2 linked regions of the Homo sapiens genome follow. The protein of the gene in region 1 interacts with the protein of each later gene in a pairwise test. Each region holds a gene or a part of one and is shown on either strand. Other genes may lie near its edges.

Region 1 (3,231 bases):
TCAATGAGAAAAAGACAAAACAAAACAAAAATGGAATAAAAAAGGAAAATTGTCAAGAGTATGAATAAATAGTTCATTGAATGGAAATATTAACGGTCTTTAAACATATGAAAAGATGGTAAACATTCATTGTCTCATTTTTTGCATTTTTAACATTTATTGAGATATAATTCACATATCACACAACTCATTTAAAGAATACAATTAAATGTTTTTAGCTTATTCACAGATATGTACCATCATCACCATAGTTGATTTCAGAATATTCTCATCACCTCGAAAAGCAATCTTAAATGTTTTAGCTATTACTCCCTATTCCCCTCTACTCACCAACTCTCCTTCCCAGTCCTAAGCAACCTGTTATCTACTTCTGACTCTATAAATTTGGCCATTCTGAACTTTCCTATGAATGGAATCATATCATATGTGATGTGACCATATAATATTTTGTCTTTTATGACAGGCTTCTTTCATTTAGCATAGTGTTTTCAATGTTCATTCATGTTTAAGCATGTGATCAATACTTCATTTTTGTCGAATAATATTTCATTAGCTGCATATGCCACAATTTGTTTATTCATTTGTCCATTCACAGACATTAGGTTGTTTCCACCTTTTGGCTATTGTATACAATGACACTATAAACATTTGTGTTTATGTTTTTATTTCTCTTGATCATGTACTTATAAATATAATATTAGATCATATGAGAACTCTGTTTATCATTTGAGAAATTGCCATCCTGTTTTCCAAAGTGGCTGCACAATTTCACATTTCCATAAGCAGTATATGAGGATTCTAGTTTCTCCACATCTGTGCCAATACTTGTTATTATCTTTCTATTCTAGCCAGCCTAGTGGATATGAAGTGGTATCTCATCATAGTTTTGATTTGCATTTCCCTGAATACTAAAGTTGTCAGGCATCTTTTCTTTTAATGTTTGTGAATTATTTCACCTTTATTTATCTCAAAATACTGGTGATATAGATATTTCATATATAACAAGGTTAAGCAACATGTGCATGTAAAATGGAGGCAGAACCAAGGCTAAAGCAACATCTAGCTCAGCCATCAACTCACTATCCCTGAGGGGTTAAGGTGGGGGCATCACACAGTGTTCATCAGCTCTCCCAGACAGATGCGTTTGATTCATCTTTTCAAAGACCTGGATGGCTGCCATCCCTGCCCAGTAGCTGCAGGAGTGGCTGGTGAAGATTTCTACCAGTTGCTTCCCATTAGCCTTGTCTACCTCTGTCTGGGGGACGGTCTGTAGCTCCTTTCCCAGGGAGATTGTTCTGATCAGAGACTTGAACTTGCTCAACTCATCCTGGCTGAGCTGCTCCAGAAGAGCCTGCAGGTTGAAGTCCAGCTCTGCAGAAGATGCCATCTTGTCCTATGTGGGAGCTCTCCCAACGCCTGGCCCTATGCTCTGGTTCTCACATTTTTTCATATACTAATAAGTATATATTTTTATATCTTTTTAGAAGAAATATCAGTTCAGATTTTTGCTCATTATAAAATTGCGTTATTGTCTTTTTATTGCTGAGTTGTAAGAGTTCTTTATATAGTCTAGGGACAGGTCCTTCATTAGATACGCGATACGCAAATTTTTGCTCCCATTCTGTGAGTTGTCTTATCAGTTTAATGATGGTGTCCTTTAAGGTACAAATGTTTTTCATTTTGATGAAATCAAATTTATCTATTTTTTTCTTATTTTTTATGCTTTTGATGTCATGTCTAAGAATCTTTTGCCAAGTCTCAGGTCATAAAGATGTACCCCTATCATTTACTATAAGAATATTACAGCTTTAACTCTTACATTTGGGTATTTGATATATTTTGAGTTAATTTTTGTATGTGGCATGAAATAGAGGTCCAACTTTATTCTTCTGCATGTAGAAATCTACTTGCCTAAGCATCATTTGTTGAAAAGTCTATTCTTTCCCCATTGTACGGTCTTGAAACCCTTGTTGAAAGTCAGTTGACCACAGATGTACGGGCTTATTTTTGGACTCTCAGTTCTGTTTTATTGAGCAATGTGCCTATCCTTATGCCAGTACCACATTATCTTAATTACCATTAAGATGCTAAGTCATGAAATGAGGAAATACTAAATAAATTACTAAGTCATGAAATAAGGAAAGGTGAATTGTCTTTGTTTGCTCTTATTTTTCAATATCATCTTGGCTGTACTGGGTCTATGCGATACTACTTGAATTTTCTAACTAGTTTGCCCATTTCTACATAAAGTAAGCTGAGGTTCTGACAGGGATTGTATTGAATCTGTAGATCAGTTTGGGGAGTAGTGCCATCTTAACAATGTAAATTAAGCCTTCCAATCTATAAACACGAGATGCTTTCCACTTATTTAGCTCTTTAATTTCTCTCAATAATGTCTTGTAATTTTCAGAGCATAAGTTTTACTTCTTTGTTAAAATTTATTTCTAGGTATTTTATTCTTTTTGATATGATTCTAAAAGGAATTGTTTTAATTTCAGTTTTGGACTGTTCATTACAAGTGTGTAGAAGAAAAACTGATTTTTATGTATGATCTTGTATCCTGAAACCTGGATGAACTCATTTAATAGTTCTAACAGGTTTCGAGTGAATTTTTTAGGATTTCCTATATACAAGATTATGTTATCTGCTAATACAGACACTTTCACTTCCATTCCAATCCAGTTGCCTTTCTTATCTTGTCTAGTTGCTAGGGCTAGCACCACTAATGTAATGTTGTATGGTCATGCTAAGAGCAGATAGCATTGAGATGGTCCTGATTTTAGGACAAAAATCATTTTTCCATTAAATATAATTTTGGCTATGAGTTTTCATAGATAACTTTTATCAGATTGAGGAAGCTCCCTTCTATTTTCCAGTTGGGAGTATTTTTATCATGAAAGGAAGTTGGGTTTTGTCCAGTGCTTTTTCTGTGTTTATTGAGATAATCATGTAATTTTTGTTTTTATTCTACTGATATGATGAATTATATTAATTGATTTTCATATGTTCAAACCAACCTTGCCGTCCTGGGATAAATCCCACTTGGTCATTGTGTATAATTCTTTTTATAGGTCACTGTATTCAATTTGCTTGTATTTTTTGGAGTGCATGTTTCAGATTGAGTATAAATTTATATGAACCCTAGAGAAGGCAGTCCTGAAAAATATAAACGACAAGAGCATTTGCTCTTTGACCTGGCTTTTCCACCTCTAGTATTTGTCTTACAGGTGT
Region 2 (3,030 bases), on another chromosome or scaffold:
TTCATTTTTGTCGTTGTCTGTTTTTTCTGTTAAAATTAATTTGTTATTCCCATGTCCTAAGATTGCTTGATCTTGATTCTAGATTCTGACATCCAAATCCAGAACGTACACCTTTGGTTGGTGCCAGTCTAGAAGGCTAAACAAGAACAAGGAAGTAGATTTCTGCTCAGACAAGGAGGTGCTAAATAGTTCAAGCTATCTAGCAAGGGGTTTGGTTAGTTCACCAGGGATACAATTCAGGCCAACACGGGATTAAAACCAAGTCTGGGATGTTATAGGAGAAATTGCTATCGCTCATTTGGATGTCTTCTATTACTGTATGATCACAGCTTCTGAGCCTCAGTTTCCCCATATGCATAAGGAAGGGATTCACCTAAATAACCTCTAAGGACCCTTCCAGCTCTTACTCCAGATTCTACCAGAATTTGTCTGTGGCTTTTTTCTAAATCAAAGAATCTCAGAAGTGAGTGGGAGCTTGGAGGTGTACCATGTGTGTTAATAACTTAGCACTGTTTCAGATGCATCTTCATCTCTGTTTTCCTCCAGGAGATCTCATGCCTGCAACTACTCTGATCCCTCCAGCCCGCATAGGTCAGTAACAGCTCTCAGAGACCACAGGAGGCGGTGGCAGTTCTGGGGTACTGTCTGGTTCTGGGGGAAGGGAAGAGAGAAAGGAAGGGACTCATCACTGCAAACCTCACAAAGAGTCAGGCCCTGGAGAGCGGTGCATGGTCGCTCCCCATACCCCCTTGTCCTATCCACAGAGACCCTAGAATTCCTTATCTGACAGCCTCCAATGTGCCCAGCAGGAACCCCACTCCCGATCCCCACTCTGGCAGAATGCCAAGCTAGATGCTGCCATGAGGGAGGACACAGGTGCATTTCTGGAGGCAGAAGGAAGCGAGGGATGCAGAGATGAGAGAGGAAAGCACTGAAGGTGGGGATTGGAGGTGGAGGCTGTGGTTGGAGCCCTTCTTTGTTCGTTGCCAGCCGTACCTTCACCTCTGGATGCCCCGCAGTTGCTGCACTTTGTGGACCAGTATCGAGAGCAGCTGATAGCCCGAGTGACATCGGTGGAGGTTGTCTTGGACAAACTGCATGGACAGGTGCTGAGCCAGGAGCAGTACGAGAGGGTGCTGGCTGAGAACACGAGGCCCAGCCAGATGCGGAAGCTGTTCAGCTTGAGCCAGTCCTGGGACCGGAAGTGCAAAGATGGACTCTACCAAGCCCTGAAGGAGACCCATCCTCACCTCATTATGGAACTCTGGGAGAAGGGCAGCAAAAAGGGACTCCTGCCACTCAGCAGCTGAAGTATCAACACCAGCCCTTGACCCTTGAGTCCTGGCTTTGGCTGACCCTTCTTTGGGTCTCAGTTTCTTTCTCTGCAAACAAGTTGCCATCTGGTTTGCCTTCCAGCACTAAAGTAATGGAACTTTGATGATGCCTTTGCTGGGCATTATGTGTCCATGCCAGGGATGCCACAGGGGGCCCCAGTCCAGGTGGCCTAACAGCATCTCAGGGAATGTCCATCTGGAGCTGGCAAGACCCCTGCAGACCTCATAGAGCCTCATCTGGTGGCCACAGCAGCCAAGCCTAGAGCCCTCCGGATCCCATCCAGGCGCAAAGAGGAATAGGAGGGACATGGAACCATTTGCCTCTGGCTGTGTCACAGGGTGAGCCCCAAAATTGGGGTTCAGCGTGGGAGGCCACGTGGATTCTTGGCTTTGTACAGGAAGATCTACAAGAGCAAGCCAACAGAGTAAAGTGGAAGGAAGTTTATTCAGAAAATAAAGGAGTATCACAGCTCTTTTAGAATTTGTCTAGCAGGCTTTCCAGTTTTTACCAGAAAACCCCTATAAATTAAAAATTTTTTACTTAAATTTAAGAATTAAAAAAATACAAAAAAGAAAAAATGAAAATAAAGGAATAAGAAGTTACCTACTCCATAGGCACAGCAGTCCCGACTGGCTGCTGGTTGGCTATTTTTGTGGTTATTTCTTGATCGTGTGCTAAACAAGGAGTGGATTATTCATGAGTTTTCCAGAGAAAGGGGTGGGAATTCCTGGAACTGAAGGTTCTTCCCCCTTTCAGACTACTTAGGGAAACTTCCAGATGCTGCCATGGCGTTCGTAAACTGTCATGGCGCTGGTGGGAATGTCTTTTAGTATGCTAATGTATTAAAATTAGCATATAATGAGCAGCGAGGACAACCGGAGGTCCCTTTCATCACCATCTTGGTTTGATGGGTTTTGGCTTCTTTACCACATCCTGTTTTATACGAGGAGTCTTTGTGAAACCAGTCCTGCCAACCTCCTATCTTATCCCCACCTCAGACATTACATACTCGTCCTTAATCTTAAGAGGTTGTAGAAGGACAGAGATCTATCTTCTGTCACTGCTTCATGCTGAACAGGGGCCATCATCCCTACCTGCTCTGGAGGCATAGAAATGTCTTCGTACCTGATCGAATGACTTATAGGGACTCCATCTTTTCTGCAGTGGCACAGGCTGGAACACTGGACTAATTATTTTTCTCTGAAACTGTTGTAGCCTGGAAGACATAAACTTGAACCGTCCGAACACCTGATGAATATAACAAATATTTTTAAAATCAAATAGCACCTAGTGATAATTCATAAAATACTTAAGCCCAGTTTTAAAGAAGAGATCAAAGCCAAGCATGGTGGCTCATGCATGTAATCTTAACACTTTGGGAGGCCAAGGCAGGAGGATCACTTGAGCTCAGGCTTTTGAGACTAGCCCGGGCAACATAGACTTTGTCTCTTTAAAAAAATAAGAAAGAAAAAAATAAGAGATCAGATGCCATTTGGAATCTAAGTGAATAGGCTGGAAAACTAGTCTTCTGTTGTCTGAAATACAAAGCCAAACAGATTTTTAATAAGAGAGATTTTTATGAGAACAGAAGAAAAAAAGGTTAATGCTGGACACAGTCTATCCAGGTATTAGACTCAAAAGCATCTTTAGTTATAAAGCAGGAAAGTGGTGGCAATCTGACACGCCTGTATCACA

What was found. The genes of interacting proteins can lie anywhere in the genome.
Region 2: the proteins of PYDC2 (region 1) and NLRP1 interact in a two-hybrid assay, tested with the Homo sapiens proteins (one study listed by IntAct).

Annotation. Positions count from the first base shown.
Region 1 is NC_000003.12:191,459,319-191,462,549, reverse strand, and holds PYDC2 (pyrin domain-containing protein 2), read right to left. Parts: upstream 1,388-3,231; coding exon 1,094-1,387; downstream 1-1,093. UniProt on the Homo sapiens protein: May play a role in innate immunity by disrupting the interaction between PYCARD and NLRP3, thereby regulating the NLRP3 inflammasome. May also inhibit NF-kappa-B signaling distally by affecting the nuclear accumulation of RELA.
Region 2 is NC_000017.11:5,513,034-5,516,063, reverse strand, and holds the end of NLRP1 (NACHT, LRR and PYD domains-containing protein 1), read left to right. Parts: intron 1-546; coding exon 547-591; intron 592-990; coding exon 991-1,310; 3' UTR 1,311-1,946; downstream 1,947-3,030.